3 linked regions of the Homo sapiens genome follow. The protein of the gene in region 2 interacts with the protein of the main gene of each other region in a pairwise test. Each region holds a gene or a part of one and is shown on either strand. Other genes may lie near its edges.

The links. Proteins that work in one complex are often made in the same cells at the same time.
Region 1: the proteins of LSM1 (region 2) and GSTA4 interact in binary tests that used the Homo sapiens proteins (3 or more experiments, as listed by UniProt).
Region 3: the proteins of LSM1 (region 2) and PATL1 interact in binary tests that used the Homo sapiens proteins (3 or more experiments, as listed by UniProt).

What each region holds. Positions count from the first base shown.
Region 1 is NC_000006.12:52,978,263-52,985,299, forward strand, and holds part of GSTA4 (glutathione S-transferase A4), read right to left. Parts: intron 6,344-7,037; coding exon 6,202-6,343; intron 4,444-6,201; coding exon 4,312-4,443; intron 331-4,311; coding exon 208-330; 3' UTR 1-207. UniProt on the Homo sapiens protein: Conjugation of reduced glutathione to a wide number of exogenous and endogenous hydrophobic electrophiles. This isozyme has a high catalytic efficiency with 4-hydroxyalkenals such as 4-hydroxynonenal (4-HNE).
Region 2 is NC_000008.11:38,162,824-38,166,515, forward strand, and holds the end of LSM1 (U6 snRNA-associated Sm-like protein LSm1), read right to left. Parts: intron 1,018-3,692; coding exon 847-1,017; 3' UTR 516-846; downstream 1-515. UniProt on the Homo sapiens protein: Plays a role in the degradation of histone mRNAs, the only eukaryotic mRNAs that are not polyadenylated. Probably also part of an LSm subunits-containing complex involved in the general process of mRNA degradation.
Region 3 is NC_000011.10:59,638,016-59,645,052, forward strand, and holds part of PATL1 (protein PAT1 homolog 1), read right to left. Parts: intron 5,021-7,037; coding exon 4,865-5,020; intron 1,369-4,864; coding exon 1,277-1,368; intron 1,183-1,276; coding exon 1,033-1,182; intron 397-1,032; coding exon 375-396; 3' UTR 1-374. UniProt on the Homo sapiens protein: RNA-binding protein involved in deadenylation-dependent decapping of mRNAs, leading to the degradation of mRNAs. Acts as a scaffold protein that connects deadenylation and decapping machinery.

The DNA.
Region 1 (7,037 bases), on a different chromosome or scaffold from region 2:
TTCCAATAAAGATCCCCTAACAATTATTTACTGGACAAAAAAGGTTGATATTTCTAGAAGAGATGATCTCGTTGACACAAAAGACCCAACTTAGGACCCAACTTAATACATAGATAGCACCATGACAGAGCTGGGATCCATTAAGACATGACTGTAGACAATACCATCTCTAGGAACACACTGTCACTCACACATGGATGTGTTGTTTTATGGCCTAAAGATGTTGTAGACGGTTCTCACATAAATTTCATCAGGGGGAGGCTTCTTCTTGCTGCCAGGTTCAAGGAATCTCTTAATTGTAGGGATATTACTTAGTTTCACTGTGTATTCCTGAAAAAGGAAAACCAAAACTTTAAGGCTAACAAAAAAGGTATTAGATACTACGAAGATATGGTTATGCAAAATGGCCCACCAAAATTTGTTCAATAAATACTTGTTGAAGAGTTCCAAGCAGAAATGAAATTTAGCATTTGTTTAGCAGGGGTGTCCAATCTTTTGGCTTCACTGGGCCACACATAAAATACACTAACACTAAAGGTAGCTAATGAGCTGAAAAAAAAACCTCAAAATATCTCATAATGTTATAAGAAAGTTTATGAATTTATGTTAGGCCACATTCAAAGTTGTCCTGAGCCACATGCAGCCCGCGGGCTGTGGGTTGGACAAGGCTAGGTTAAGATCTGATCTCTATGATTATTTACAATCTCTGTCATCAATCACCGGTATCAAGATCAGAGTTTACACAAATCTCCAGGTTCACAAAAAGGTAAGCACTCTTTACAGAAATGGCAAAAGTAAAAACATACTCAAAATAGAATTATGACACTTAAGGTGAAAAAAAAGGAAGGGGAAAACTCACTGAAAACACCTCCAGTGTATTGTTTTGTATTGTTTTTTAACAGTAGTCAATTTGAAGCAGTGGGAGTGGGGAAGGAACAAAGAAATCTGTAACTGGTTGTGATCAATTAGCTGTAAACACCACTCGGACTAGCCACCTGAAGTGCACTGATCTGCTGGGAGAAAATGCATGAGCCACTTAAGTAAAGGTGCTTTAAAAAGTCACTAGATGGTACAATTTATATCTTAAGATTCAGCTTCTTCAGAGTTTTTACTCCTATCAGTAAGTGAATCCTCTTTCTGGCTATGTGCAGGAAATAGCCAGTTGCATTTTTTTCATAGCCTCTGGCTCAGATACCAGATATTTATATAAACTGGAATGGAAGAAAAACATTGTATTTTTCATTCACAGAATCAAATCTTACCAATTCTCAGTAACTGAGAAGAAAAGCCCATTTGATCTAATGAAAAATCTGAACTATATGAAGAAGCATATGCTCATCATATATAATTATTCTAATAAAACCTTTTAAAGATATTTAAATAAAACCATTTATTTAAAAGTGAAGAGGTCATTTTAAATAGCTACTATTTATTAATTGCCTATTATGTGCAAGGCACAGCCTTAATTAAGCACACACACAAACATACATACGTCACTAATAGTAACAAAAACCCTAATAATGATGCCAATTAATTATATATAAATATGACAATTTTCTCTTTTCATTACGTACTTAAGCTCTACTTGTATGATTTTAAATATTATACCAAAATTTAGAATCTTGTTCCAAATGATGTATTGTTTCAAGATTTATCTGGGGTTCATAGTTATCAAAGTATAGTAAAATTTTTGTGACTTTTTAAATCCATTAATCAACACAGGAATAACCCTTTAAATTCAACACAGATCTGGTGTCCGATTCTGAAGTTTTAAAATATTGATGCTCAATCTGATCACAGATTAAAACTGTATTTACGCAGATAATGCTTGGGGCTTAAAAAAGGGTTGTTATTATAGTATCATCAATGTAAAATACCAATAGGTCCTGGTGCTACAGTTTACCAAAAAACCTTGATCTCTATCATTTACCCTAGACTTTTAAAATCTTTTGTGTCCATTCAATGAAAAGTACTTTACTGCCTGTGAGGTGTGTGTCTATGTGTACACAAGCATGTATATATATGCATGCCTGGAAAGATTTCACTTTGTTTTTTTTTTTGAGACACAGTTTTGCTCTGTCACCCAGGCTGCAGTGCAGTGGCATGATCTCGGCTCACTGCAACCTCCACCTCCCCAGTTCAAGTGATTCTCCTGCCTCAGCCTCCGAGTAGCTGGGATTACAGGCACATGCCACCATGCTCAGCTAATTGTTTTATTTTTAGTAGAGATGGGGTTTCACCATGTTGGCCAGACTGGTCTTGAACTCCTGACCTTAAGTGATCCACCCACTTCAGCCACCCAAAGTGCTGGGATTACAGGTGTGAGCCACTGCGCCCGGCCTAGATTTCACCTTTAATAAGCTTAGCATTCTACCTACTTCTGGGTTCAGCATCCCACCTATTTGGGGCCAAAGGTACTTCTAGTACTTCTAAATGTGTTTCTCAGAAACCACACAGTCTAGTGGAAAGAGTACAGACTTAGATCCCTGACTCCCCTGTGGCTCCCAACTCAGTCATCCACAGTCTTGCAACTATGCAGAATGTAATGTTTCCAAGCTGGTAATTTTCATCTGTAAAATGGAGATAGTGAAGCCCATCTCCTAGGGTTATTGGGGTGGGGTTGACGGGACAGATGAGCAAATGCATGTAAGTGCCTAGCAGACTGACTGGAATGAAGCTGGCACTCAACAAGTTGCAGATCCCTTCCTCTAATTTCCCTTCTCTGCTAAACAAGTAACTTTTTTAACAGTGCAAAAGAATACTTCAGGTGAAAAGTATCCTAAGTTCTGAATGAATAAAATCAAATTAAGGAAAGTCAATCTCTGTGTCTGCAAAAGTAAATGAAAAAAAAATTGAAAAAAAAATATAAACTATAACATAAATGATATGGTGGTTTATTGCCTTGTTGAAGATTTTTATTCTCATTTTCTGGGTGTACTTATTGAACTGGTGGTAATTGCTCTCATTAGTATATCAAAATATTTAATAGACTTGGCAAAAAATTGTTTTAAGTATGTGTGTTACTCTTTGGAGAGTTAGTGTATCTCTCTTGGCTTTTGATAACTTGGTCAAACATATAGCAATTTGGTCTGTATCCAGGCTGTTTCAGGGATTGGCAAGCTTTTTCCATAAAGGACCAGTCAGCAAATATTTTAAGTTCTGCAGGCCATATGGTCTCTATCAGATCTACTCAACTCTGCTGTAGAAAAACAAAAGTAACCTTGACATTGTGTAAATGAGTGGGCATGGCTTTGTACCAATGAAATTTATGAATACTAGAATTTGAATTTCATATAATTTTTATGTGTCATGAAATATTATTCCACAGATTTTTTTCAACCATTTAAAAATGTAAAAATTATTCTTAACTCACAAGCTGTATAAAAACAGGTGGCAGGCCAGGTTTGGCCCAGGAGTTACAGTCTGCACATTAGACTTGGAGATAAAAGGCTAAGGTTCTAGATAAAACTCAAGCATCCACTGCCTAAGCCAGCTTGGCTGCTGATTTCTTTATTCTGGGTCTCTACTTCCTCAAGTGAATATTGAAGTCATTAAATGAGTTTTTTTTTAAAGGCCCTTCTCTCCTTTAAAGTTCTATGATCAATCCTGCCAGAATAACCCTGAGGGATAATTTGAACCACACAAGTCTTTCCTTGGAATTCTCAGAAGGAGAATGGTAGGAATCCTTTGGGGTGATGTTTAGGGTGCTAACATCTCTCATTTGCTCTCAGAGCTCAGGCTTAGAATTTCCTAACTTGAGACCATACTATTTCTGAGAAAGGGAGTCATAGCCTGATGAATGAGACTGTTTTGATGTTTATCTCGCCCACTATTCCATCAGTAGATACATGTGAGTGTGAGACCACCTCATCTCTATGGTTATTTCTATGGAAAGTCCCCTGAGGCAAACTCCCTGTGCATGGAGTTTTTTCCAGGAGTGCAGTTATGGAACAAAATTAAGATGAAAATTTCTGAGCTGGGTGTGCTGGCACATGCCTATAGTCCCTGCTACTCAGGAGACTGAGGTGGGAGGATCTCTTGAGCCCAGGAGTTCAAGACCATTCTGGGCAACATAGTAAGATCCCACCTTAAAAAAAAAAAATTTTACACTTCAATGATCTTTCAACTTGAAGGATTTAAGGACCAGAAAAATAACTTTGGGTCCTTACTTTCATTTCATTTGCCAAACTAGAATCTTAAAAATATTACACATACACACACACACACACTCCCCAAAGCCAACCAAACAATAGACACTGAAGGAAGGCCCAAGAGTTCTAGGCCAATCTTCTAATACATAGTTTTATTTACCTGGAGGAAAGGAAATGCAGACAGGATATTAGGAATTTTCTCTTCTAGAGCTAAAATGGTTTGGAGTAAAATCACATCTGCAAGGCTCAGCTGATTACCAACAAGAAAGCTTTGTCCGTGACCCCTTAAAATCTGTAGGGAAATGGTGTGCATCAGTTACAATATTCCACATGGAGAGAGTGATGAGGCTATTGAATCAGTGCAGTATCTGAGAAGAGGTGAAACTATGACCTTGTCATTTCATGCTTTCATAAATAACATCAATTAAGAGAACGCACCCTATATCTGACAGAGAGAGTGAGAGAGAGGGGGAGAGAGAGAGAGAGAGAGCGAGAGAGAGAGAGAGAAAGTACAAAAAAGGTGTGGAAATGAAAGCATCCTTAAATATCTGCTGTGGATCTGAATGAGACATTGAAGTGGGGAAGGGAAAATTCCTTATTTCTGGATTTAGCATCTGGTGTTTTGAAAGGATATATCTACTCCAAAAATGTATCTACAGAAATGCATGCAGGAGGCTTGGGGAGGGGCAGGGTGATTTAAGAAATCTAAGTGATAGATCATCTTCAAGGGGCCCACTCTTATTTCCCAGTTCTGCTGCTAGAACATCAAGAGGTGTAGTCATAAACTCAACCCAATTATAAAATTAGACTTCCTCTTACATGTCCCAAAACAGAGAAAATGAAAAGCTTGAGTTCATCTTGACTCCCATTCTGAGGGTAACGTATAGGTGTGGGGCTTATAAGAATAGATTGTGATTAGGGAGAGGCAAGAAGCAGTAGTAGCAAAGGGGAGATCCCCTTCACAGTCAACTCTTGGATGCCCATGGGTGTCTGCATGTGCACAAGTGTGTGTGTCACAGGGACTCCGAACACAATTCCAGGTCAAATATAGCTACTGGAGCCAGAGTGGCATAGTACAATGCATCCTGAATTTGTAGTCAGAGGCCAGAGTTCCAACCCTGCTCTCCATTTTCTGGCCATGTTACCTTGGACAGGTCACTGAATCTCTTCATGACTTCATTTCATTATGTGTAAAAGGGACAACGGTTCTCACCTCATAGGCGTGTTGCAAGAAACCCTGACACAGTCTGGGCCCTTGGGACCTAAGAATGAGCAGTGAACCTTTGCCAAAGCACCAGGTCCTCTGTGCCCGTTCCAGACCACATTTCTTCATTATCCTATTTTACATTCACAAAGTGCCTGTGGGAAAGATACCATAAAACCTAGCTACAGAAACCCCAGAAAATACCTCTCCTTTTTCCTAAATCTAGTTCCATAAAGATGGTCAGAGGAAGCTTGCCAAATAGGTCTTCCCATATTTTCACACCCTCTTCTTTAGTGTTTGCATTGAAACACTAAAAAAGTTCCTCCCAGTTCAGGAATAAAGAATTTGAAGCTCAGAAAAGCAGATATAACAAGAAGAGAAAAACAACAAAACCAAAAACAAAAAGAGCAAAGGGAAGATAAATAAAATGGAAATGGTTCTTCTACTCATATCGAATTATCAGGGAGGATGTCAGCTGAGACAGCTGTTCGACAACTTTTGTTGAATGAATGAATGAGGTAGTTTTTGTTTTCTGTATCTTCTGAAGTTTCTGCTGTATCCACACAAGGTGGGAACTTGGTGAATGCAAGGAACAATAAGGAACAAAGGCAGGGAGCCCATACTTTTTCTAGACTTCTGAATCATGTGGTCCTAGCAGAGTCCAAGGGGCTCTAAGACACCAGCTTTGTGCTGTGGCTACTATTCGCTCTTAGGAGTCCATTAGCGCTTAGGTTAGTTCAACTGGGCTCAGTTTTAAAATCCTTGGACAGAAAAGGGTGTTTGTGGCAGCTTCTTTGTGGTTTGTGGTTTGGTTGCTCTGTGTATGTAGGCATCTCTGCCACCTACCTTTTCAAACACAGGAAAGTATCTAATTATAGCCTTCTGGGCCATGTTAACCACTTCCTTTTGCTGATCATCTGGTTTTAAGAAAGGATGCATGATAAGCAGTTCCAGCAGATCCAGTGTCCCCTCCACGTACATGTCAATCCTTAAAACAAAAAAGCAGTTGTCTCAGTTTCTCCTCTCTTTGAAGCCATCAGTTTCCACAACTAAGAATTCAGAGTGCTTTTTTTTTTTTTTTTAAAGATGCTGCAACTTAAGTCCCTAGAAGCATTTACCTATACCTGTCTCTTAAGAGCAAAGATATAAGGTCAATTCTAGTTGTAACTCAGAAAAATCTGTCACAGATCAGACAGCTTGACAGTCATGAGTGCTCTCTCTCCTGGCATCCTACTCCTCCACTTTTACCCCAGCATCCATGTTTTGGTCTCTTCGTATGGGTCAAACTTCAACTTTATAAAAATAGTGAATACCACTTATTGAGTGCTTAGAGTGTACCAGGCATGGTGCTAAACACTCTCTATCCATTATCTCATTAAATCACATGACACTATGAGAAATGTACTATTCTTATACCCACGTTGCCCAGGGTCATACATCTAAGGGGTGCAAGGACCAGGCTTTGATTTCAAATTATAATCTAATGCTCACTCTCCCAGGCCTTGAATGTCACAGCAGCTCCTCATTCCTAATACTTAACAATAGTGAATGTGCAAGAAAGGGAAAAAGCAGTATCAAAGCATTTAAAAATGTTGAAATCTGAAACAATGACACCCTAGATATAATATTCAATATCTGAATCCTATTCTTTTGTTTTACTCAGACTCTCTCTACTGAAGTTC
Region 2 (3,692 bases):
TTTTTTTTTTTTTTTTTGAGACGGAGTTTCGCTCATTGCCCAGGCTGGAGTGCAATGGTGCAATCTTGGCTCTCCGCAACCTCTGCCTTCCAGGTTCAAGTGATTCTCCTGCCTCAGCCTCTCAAGTAGCTGGGATTACAGCATGCGCCACCACGCCCTGGTAATTTTGTATTTTTAGTAGAGACAGGGTTTCTCCATGTTGGTCAGGATGGTCTTCAACTCCCGACCTCAGGTGATCTACCCGCCTCGGCATCCCAAAGTGCTGGGATTACAGGCATGAGCCACCGCCCCTGCCGAACATTTGTATTTCTTAACAGATACAAACATGGAAACAGGAGAGGACCCCTGAGATGACTGGAATAAAAATATTCCTTCCTAAGTAGCCAGCTACTTGAAACTGTGACTGAAGGGGGAAATCCCAGTATGTGGACTGCTTATACCTTTGAGAGCAGAAACTTAATTAATCTATTAATCTATTCATTACAGGTAACTCAAACTTGGAAATAACATGACACTTTTGAGATTCATATTTTATTTACAAGTAAATGAAGACTGTCCCTGTAAACTCTAATTTGGGATATGAAGAACAATATAAAGAAGTAGTTGCTGGTGCCACAGTGATGTGTGAAGGAGTCTATGCCACTGTTTCTTTAAACAGTGATTTTGTTATTAAAAAAAAAACCCACCTACACGATTTCTTCATGTTGCATATGTAAAATAATTAAAAATAAAAGTGACTTTTCAAAACTCTACAGTCTGTGATCAAATGCGTGAGGTGGCCAGGATGTCACTTTCACTCAGTGACAGCCCCTACTCTTCAAGAGCCAACAGCCTCTGGGCAAAAGATTAGTACTCATCAAGAGTATCTGCTCGAGGAATGGAAAGACCTCGGTCCTTCAGGGCCTGCACTTTCAACTTCTCTGCTTCCAGCTTGGTCTGCTGTTCCACCCTTTGTTCTTCTAGAATTTCTTCAATGGATACTTGCTGGAGGGGTGTGTCACTCTCCTTTTCCAAGTCCTACAAAAGAGACAGGTTTGAAAACTTCACCTGAAGACCAAGAATAGAAAGCACAGATCTCAAGGCAAATGGATTCCTCTATCAGGCTCAGATTATTTTTCATAACTGTGACAGGAACTGAAATATCCTTCTCCTAGGGACCGGTAAGTTTTTCAAAGAAATGCCTGACAACACTACTATAGGATACATACTTACAATGAGGTTAATAGTGATCAGTATATGTATATATTTTTCAAGATGGAGTCTCTCTGTCACCCAGGCTGAAGTGCAGTGGCGCAATCTGAGCTCACTGCAACCTCTACCTCCTGGGTTCAAGCGATTATCCTGCCTCAGCCTCCTGAGTAGCTGTGATTACAGGCACGTGCCACCACGCCTGGCTAATTTTTGTATTTTAAGTAGAGACAGGGTTTCACCACGTTGGTCAGGCTGGTCTCGAAACCTGACCTCATGATCTGCCTGCCTTGGCCTCTCAAAGTGCTGGGATTATAGGCAGTAATAAGTATTTGTATAACAGAGCTTTATGTGATCCAAAATCCCATATTAGTCAGGATTAATTTTCTATTAGTCCACGATTAATTTCCTTAAAAAAAAAAATTAGGGCTGCTTATAGACAGCTATCTCCCCCACTGCAGAGAATCCAAGAGGGAGGTTATTGAGGCAATGTGGCCTTAGACTTTTTTTTTTTTTTAATTATTTTAAGGACGGGTGGAGTGGCTCACAGTCGTAATCCCAGCACTTTGGGAGGCTGAGGTGGGAGGATCACTTGGGCCTAGGAGTTCGAGACCAGCCTGGGCAACACAGTGAGACCCTAACTAACTCCACCAAAAAACAAAACAAAAAAAAGCTGGTGTGGTGGTGTTCACCTACAGTTCCAGCTACTCAGGAGGCTGAGGTGGAAGGACTGCTTGAGCCTGGGAGGTTGAAGTTCAAGGCTGCAGTGAGCCATGAATGTGTCACTGCACTCCAGCCTCTGCAACAGCAAGACCGTCTCAAAAAAAGTAAAAAGACAAAAATAAAAAGGGATCCTCTTGCCTTTACCTCCTACGTAGCTGGGGCTACAGGTGTGCGCCACCGTACCAGCTCTGTAGTCTAGATCTAAACTGTAACAAGACTCTTTTTCCCTTTACGGCAACAAGTCTTCTAGGGAGAACCTCGGCAGACCATTTAGGTTACTAAACCAATTTGGTCCCAATATTTTTCTCCACTATTTAAAAAATTGCTGCTTAGGTTGGGCATGGTGGCTCACGCTTGTAATCCCAGCACACTGGGAAGCCGAGGCGGGCAGATCACTTGAGGCCAGGAGTTCGAGACCAGCCTGGCCAACATGGCAAAACCCCCGTCTCTACTAAAAATACAAAAAAAATTAGCTGGGCGTGGTGGCAGGTGCCTGTAATCCCAGCTACTTGGGAGGCTGAGGCAGGAGAAGCACTTGAACCTGGGAGGCGGAGGTTGCAGTGAGCGGAGATCACGCCATTGCACTCTAGCCTGGGTGACAAGAGTAAAACTCCATCTCAAAAAAAAACAAAAAATTGTTGCCTAATAAAAAATTCCTTATTTAAAAAATACACACTCATCGTAGATAATATGGAAAATAGACAAACAAGGAAAATTTAAAAATTATCCATAATTCCAGTATGGAGGATTAACATTTTGATAATATCCCTACAATTTTTCTACATATATACTGACTTAAAAAAAATAAACAACCCAGCCAGGTGTGGTGGCTCACACTTGTAATCCCAGCTACTCGGGAAGCTGAGGCACGAGAATCACTTGAATCCAGGAGGCAGAGGTTGCAGTGAGCCAAGATCACACCACTGCACTCTAGCCTGGGCGACAGAGTAAGACTCTGTCTCAAAAGGAAAAAAAAAAAAAAGTAAAAAATAAAAAATTAGCTGGGCGTGGTAACGTGTACCTATAGTCCCAGCTACTCATGAGGCTGAGGGGGGAGGATCACTTGAGCCCAGGAGTTTGAGGCTGCAGTGAGCTGTGATCACACCACTGCAGTCAGCCTAGATAACAAAGTGAGACGCTGCCTCAAAAACAAACCCCTCCCAAAAACCCACAATGCAAATACTGACTTTAATTCGTTTTTTCACTTAAATGTGGCATAGTATGCTTAATATTTTTATTTTTGAATGTTTTATAAACATTTTTCATTAATTATTTTTAAAGATATAGAAGACTTCATGAATTTGCGTGTCATCCTTAAGCAGGGGCCGTGCTAATCTTCTCTGTGTTGTTCCAATTTTAGTAGATGTGCTGCCAATGTGAGCACATTTTTCATTTTTTTAGAGACAGGATCTTGCTCTGTTGCCCAGGGTGGAGTGCAGTGGCACAATCACAGCTCACCATGATCTGAAACTCTTGGGCTGAAGTGATCCTCCTGCCTCAGCCTCCTAAGTAGCTGGAACTACAGGCATGTGCCACCACATCTGGCATTAAATCTTTTTTCTTTTTGTAGAGATGGGGTCTTGCTATGTTGCCCAGGCTGGTCTCAAACTTCTGGCCTCAAGCATCCTCTTGCCTTGGCCTCCCAAAGTGTGAGCCACTGTGCCTGGCCCTTATAAACATTTGCTAACCAATGTCATAATGCAGAAGAACCTTGCTAAAAAAGTATCTCACTGTCCATAGATTCAGTTTATTGTCCTTAAAATGAATGTACAGGTATTATT
Region 3 (7,037 bases), on a different chromosome or scaffold from region 2:
TAGGATGAGGGAAGGAATCCTTTGGCAGGCTACAATCTACTCTGAGGTGGAGTAGTGGAGGGATAAAGGGAGAGATTACACTTGTGTCTCTAGGGCAAAGAAAATGCAAAACAGAACTGAGTAAAAGTAGGACATGCAGAACTGTAACACAGAAGGTAAAGAAACCAGCAGAAGTATCACCCAGCCAAATTTCATAGAGCAGTGGGGAAATATCTGACATTTAGAGAGACAACCCCTGTAAACAGGAATCGATCCCACAAGACTTTGCTTTGGGGAAAAAGCTACCTTCCTTCCCTCATTAAAAACACTCCATTGGTGATGGCAGCAGTGCAGGTGGCAGCCAAAAGGAGGTACAGGACACATTTGGAGATCTTTTATCGTATCCCCTGAACTAGCCTAGGAGTACAAAGGAGAGAAAGGAAAATTGTATAAATGAGTTAAAACAGAAGGCAATCTTTCATATTACAGTTACATCTTTGTAAGACTTCTCATAACAAAATACCCGAGATTATTTCTCTACCCTTAGCATTTGGTCATCTTTTATGAAGGCCCTGTTGTACCCAGTTCAGTGTTTTATATCTAACAGATACACAAATAGTTAATAAAAAGTCAATCTCTTCCACCAAATTCAGTTTTATTCCCCCCTCCACCCCAATCATAACTTCTTTTTATTTATTTTTTTTGAGACAGGGTCTTGCTCTGTCACCCAGGCTGGAGTGCAGTGGCGTGATCTCAGCTCACTGCAATCTCTGTCTCCCGGGTTTAAATGATTTTCATACCTCAGCCTACCGAATAGCTGGGATTACAGGCATGCACCACCGCACTTGGCTAATTTTCGTATTTTTTTAGTAGAGACAGGGTTTCACCATTTTGGTCAGGCTGGTCTGGAACTCCTGGCCTCAAGTGATCCACCCTCCTGGGTGTCCTAAAATGCTGGGATTACAGGTGTGAGCCACCGTACCCAGCCTCCCAACCATAACTTCTAAAGTCCCAACTTTAGTGAGATGTGAAACTCTCCTGTTTCAAACTTACTGCAGTTTTGTCTCCAGCAAGTTCAGTTTCTGCCGGTCAACATAGCGAGAAAAGAGGGACACTAGGTTTGTAGGTATAGAGATTGGCTTGGCCAGGGCTGCTTGGGGAATCCGCAGAAGTTCTCGTGTTGCCATGAACATCACCTCCGTCCTGACAGGGAAGACCCATAATAATATCAGGAGAAAAAAATTTAAAAGATTACCTCAAAGAACTTAAAATAAGAGAAGAAACAGTCCACACTGACCACTGATTATTTTGTGTTGATTCTGTAGCAGGGTCTGAACTCTGTAGGTCTTCACCACGGCTCAGGAGGATGAGGAGCAGTGACAGGCCAAACTACGAGAAAAGACAGAGGGAATCAAACTCAACACTGTGTCTAAACCTCCTCCACCACTGTTGAAGGGATCCTGGCATCAGATGGGGAACAGCTCTAAATCAAAATAACCTCACTACTGTGCTTTTCTGTAAAACCAGGTAAAGATCAGACAAGCATGAGTTGAAAGGCTATGTCTCTCTCCAGGCTTTATTCTGCCATAGCAGTGACCAGGCGCAGCCAACAGAAACGGAAAGTCATGGTGTCCAACACGCCTCTCTGTTCCCCATGCTGAGGTTAAAAGATGGTTTTTCCTTGCCATGGATAATGTAGAATTTGACTTTTCTCCTATTTATGAGAACAGAAATAGGCTAAAAAAGAAAGTAAATGAAGACCAATTTTGGTACAGAAATTAAAAATCAGGAAAAAATAAGAAAAAAGCATTACAGTAAGATATTTTGAATTAAGAAACAAGGTGTAAACTGTAGGAAAATATACAAATAAACACAACTGAAATAAACATGGTATAAAGAGAAACTTTCCATTAAAAAGCACATCTCTATCTGGAAATACAAAGTCTTAGACAGAATGTTAATAAAAATCTAAAAAATAAAAAGAGAGAAAGGGTAAACAGATGTATACACCGTATCTATAATTAAAATTCAGCAACATGCTTTAGAGTATGCAATATATAAAAATGGTCAGGTGTGGTGGCTCATGCCTGTAATCCCAGCACTATGGGAGGCCAAGGTGGGTGGATGACCTGAGGTCAGGAGTTTGAGACCAGCCTGATCAAAATGGTGAAACTCCGTCTCTACTAAAAATAGAAAATTAGCCAGGCACGGTGGCACATGCCTGTAATCCCAGCTACTTGGGAGGCTGAGGCAGGAGAATTGTTGGAACCCGGGAGCTGGAGGTTGCAGTGAGCCAAGATCGCACCATTGCGCTCCAGCCTGGGCAACACGAGTGAAACTCCATCTCCAAAAAAAAAAAAAAAAGTAACATATAAAAATGTGTTTTATTTAGTGGACAGTAAAATCAGGAAATGTAGTCTTTGGGGCATAGGATTAAAATATGGGACGGGCGTGGTGGCTCATGCATGTAATCCCAGCACTTTGGGAGGCCAAGGCGGGTGGATCAAGAGGTCAGGAGATCGAGATCATCCTGGCTAACACGGTGAAACCCTGCCTCTACTAAAAAATACAAAAAATTAGCCAGGCGTGGTGGCGGGTGCCTGTAGTCCCAGCTACTCGGGAGGCTGAGGCAGGAGAATGGCTTGAACCCAGGAGGCGGAGCTTGCAGTGAGCTGCGATCGCGCCACTGCACTCCAGCCTGGGTGACAGAGCAAGACTCTATCTCAAAAGAAAAAAAAAAATGAACAGGGGGCTGGGGATGGGCATGGTGGCTCATGCCTGTAATTCCAGCACTTTGGGAGGTGGAGGCAGTACTGCTTGAGTCCAGGAGTTCGAGACCAGCCAGAGCAACATAGTGAGACCCTGTTTCTGCAAAAAATATAAAAATCAATCGGAGGCTGGGTGTGGTGGCTCACACCTGTAATCCCAGCACTTTGGGAGGCTGAGGCAGGTGGATCACGTGAGGTCAGGAGCCCCGGACCAGCCTGGCCAACATGGCAAAACCCTGTCTCTGCTAAAAACACAAACATTAGCCTGGTATGGTGGCGGGCACCTGTAATCCCAGCTACTTGGGGGCTGACGCAGGAGAACTGCTTGAACCTGGGAGGCAGGGGTTGCAGTGAGACAAGATATCGCCATTGCACTGCAGCATGAGTGACAGAGCAAGGCTCTGTCTCAAAAAAAAAAAAGTCAATCAGGCATGGTGGCACATGCTACTCAAGAGGCTGAGGTGGGAGGATCGCTTTGAGTACAGAAAGTTGAGGCTGCAATGAGCTGTGACTGTGCCACTGCACTGAAGCCTGGGTGACAGAGTGAGATCCTGTCTCAAAAAAGAAAATACAAATAGGGACAAGAAGGTTTAGGTTAAATGTATGACTCATACCTATAAATGGATCATAAAAGGAAGGCTGGCAGTACTTTGGGATTCCATTCCAACTTTCTAGACTCACTCACTTTTCCACAAAATTTCCCTTCATGGCCGGTTGCAGTAGCTCACACCTGTAATCCCAACACTTTGGGAGGTCGAGGCAGGCTGATAGCTTGAGCTCAGGAGTTTGAGACCAGCCTGGACAACATGGCGAAACCCCACCTCTACAAAAAATACACAAATTAGTTGTGCGTGGTGGCATGTGCCTGTAGTCCCATCTACTTGGGAGGCTGAGGTGGGAGGATGGCTTGAGCCCAGGAGGCAGAGGTTGCAGTGAGCCGAGATCTTGCCACTGCACTCTGGCCTGGGTGACAGAGAAGACCCTGATTTAAAAAAAAAAAATCCCTTTTCATGTTATTCTCAGAAAAAAAATACTACTGCCTTTACTAAAATTAAAACTAAGAGACCAAATAACAGAAAGGCACATTCCGGATCACTCCAGAACCCCAGAGGCACTGTCACCTCTTCTTCCTCTGATACACTGACCTTTAGAGTCATGCTTTGGTAGGTTTTCTGGTGCAAAGGAGCAAGAGGCCTTGAGACCACTTTTTCATCTCTACTGTACATAGAATGGCCCTTAATGAGTAACTACTATGTACCAGGCATTATATCGAACCACTTACAACTGTTATCTCATTTAAGTACCAGGACAACTCTATGAAGTCTACATCATCACCTCCATCTTATAGACCAGGAAACTGATTCAGCAATGTGATATCATCTGTCCAAGGTCACAAAGCTAGACAGTAGCAGGGAAGGACTAAAAATTCATATTCTTTATTTCATATTATGTTTCCCCTAGGAATCTCTGAATCTTTAAACTTGATGCAAATAAAATATGAAATGGATGATTCTACTATTCATAGTGTTATGACAGAGACTGCTAATTGCCTAATATGCCTTCCTACCCATTATCAGAACTCTTATGTGTCATGACAATGGCATAAACTAAAAGATATTTTCCAGCCTTCCCTGCACTTAGGTGTGGCCATGTGACAATGTCCTGGCTATTAACAGTAAGTAGAAGTTTCTGGTTAGAACTCCTGGAAAAGGTCTCAATAAGGAAGATGGACAGCTGGTCCACATCTTTTTGCCCTCCACATCCACCTGTCCTTCTTGATGTAAAGCTGAATCATGAATTCCACAGCCATCTTGGACCATGAGGAATAATGAACATGGAAGCCACTGGTAAGAATGGCAGAGGAAAAAAAGTGAAAAAGCCTGGATCCCTGATGACTCTGTCGAGCTACTAAATCAAATTTATTTCACACTAGACACATAAAATCCCATTTTGTTGAAAACACTGTTATTTCTAGCCGGTTACTAGGAGCTTAATGTAACTCTTGACTGAAAGAAGCCTTTTTCCCAAGTTGCTAGAGATACAGCAGCCATTATTTTAATCTATAACGCAAATTAAGACATTTCACAAAGTTCAAGGAGTTAAAAGGGCAAGATCACCTTGTTCTGGAGCACAGCAGTGAGGTGAGGATTGGAGAGTGCTGGTGTAGCTGCACTTTGAGGTAGGTTCATTAGCTGTCGCAAAAGGCTGGTGATACTCACTGATGGAAGATGATAGAGAAGGAGAGAGAAGGGACTCAGTAAGCATGGCAGCACCTACAAAAAACAAATAAAAGCATTATATCCTGGCACGTGTTACTTCAGTTACCCCCCACCAGGGGCATGGATGGAAGGATGTTCATTTGTATATTCAACCACTTAAGGCACAAGTCTGGCAGATATGACTAGAGTCTTAATAATGAATTCTAAGCTATCTACTGAGAACTTTTTCATCTCAATTTGCATTGGAAACACCATGACTTGTGTGAACCAAAGGTGTAAAAAAAAATCACTCCCAAATACATACCAAGAGTTATGCTAAAACATCAATATTTTAACTAATTCCATAAATATTTAAATGCTTACACTACACCATGGGCTAAAAACAAATGGCAAAAGGACACAGAACCTCAGGGATCTAAAGTATAGCGGAGAAGATATGGGTTAATTGGCCATTTCAATATACTGTGAGAAGCACTCCAAGATAGGTTAAAGGCCAAGCAGAAGATCACTTCAGGCCAGGAGTTCAAGACTAGTCTGGACAACGTAGTGAGACCTCATCTCTACAACAAATAAAAAAGTTTCACCTGTAGTCCCCAGCTACTCAATAGGCTGAGGTGGTAGGTTTGCTTGAGTCTAAGAGTTCAAGGTTACATTGAACTATGATTGCACAACCACATTCCGGCTTGGGTGACAGGGTGAGACCCACCCTGTCTCAAAAGAAGTGTTTTCAGATTTAATGTATTTTCTTTTATTTTTATAAAAGCTCAATGAGGAAGAAAAGAAATAATTAGCCAATTTTTATAGATTTTTAGAGAATCTATAAAGTGATCAGAAACTCAGTGTTTGGAGTTACATAGCCACAGCTAGAGCCAGAACCCAAGGCTGTTGAATTCCAGCCTTCTAGTCATTTATTTCTTTTTGTCATGTAGCCAACTGGAAAGTTAAAATAAAGAACTATTAATATAAATAACTAGGTTATAACACAACAAAGGAAATCAAGAGTGCTTCCAGACAATCAATGCACATGGTATAAAGTGATGGCTGGTTTTACTTTAAATGGCAACTGCAAATGGGGAATAAAATATTTTTTGTGGTCTACTATAAATTAAAAAAGCTTTTATTATGGTCATTTTAGAACATACATGAAAATACAAACAACAGCATAATGACATTCATGTACTCACCACCCAATTTCAACATCAACCAAATTATCAACATTTTGCCAATCTTATTAAATCTATGTTCCTTCTGTATCATATCATTTCATCCCAAAATACATCAGTTTGTATTTCTAACAAAATCTCTCACAATATCATACCTAACAAAATAAACAATAATTTTTCTTCATAGACCATTTCTCAGGAAAGAATTTTAAAATATCATCTAGTATCTGTTTCAAATTCAAATTCCCTCAAATGCCTTTAAAAATATCTTTTAGCAGCTGAACTTTGTATTAGAACCATTATTGTGCTAATTATGGTTCAAACAAGATCCACACATTGCATTTGCCTGGTAAGGTTTTTAAAATCTCTCTAACAGGTCTTCTGCCACTGGCCCTTTTCTCTTGTTATTTATCTGTTAAAGAAACTGGGTCATTTGTTCTATAGTTTGAATTTGGCAAACTGCATGTTGGCAGTGTCACTTAGCAGGTTCTGCTATCCTCTGTTTCCCTCCTAAACAGATAGTTAGAATAACAGGTTTATTTGATTCAGGTTCAGTAGGATGTGGGAGGGACATGTGAGAAAACGTCATGGATAGAACTGTGTATTTTCCATTGCATTATGCCAAGAAGAGCTAGGTATGGTGGCTCATGCCTGTAATCCCTGCATTTTAGGAAGCAGAGATGGGAAAACTGCTTGAGCCCAGGAGCTCGAGACAAGCCTGGACAACATAGGGAGACTTCGTTTCCTTTTTTTTTTTTTTTTTTTAAAAAAAAAAAAAAAGCACAGTGCTTGGTTGTCCCACTCTTAGAGGTGTTAAGAGTTCATTAATGGGTTCAGGTGTTGCCAGGCTGCTCCAACCACTGTAAAGTTCCCCATCCACTTTTTTTTTTTTTTTTAATCCATTCAAC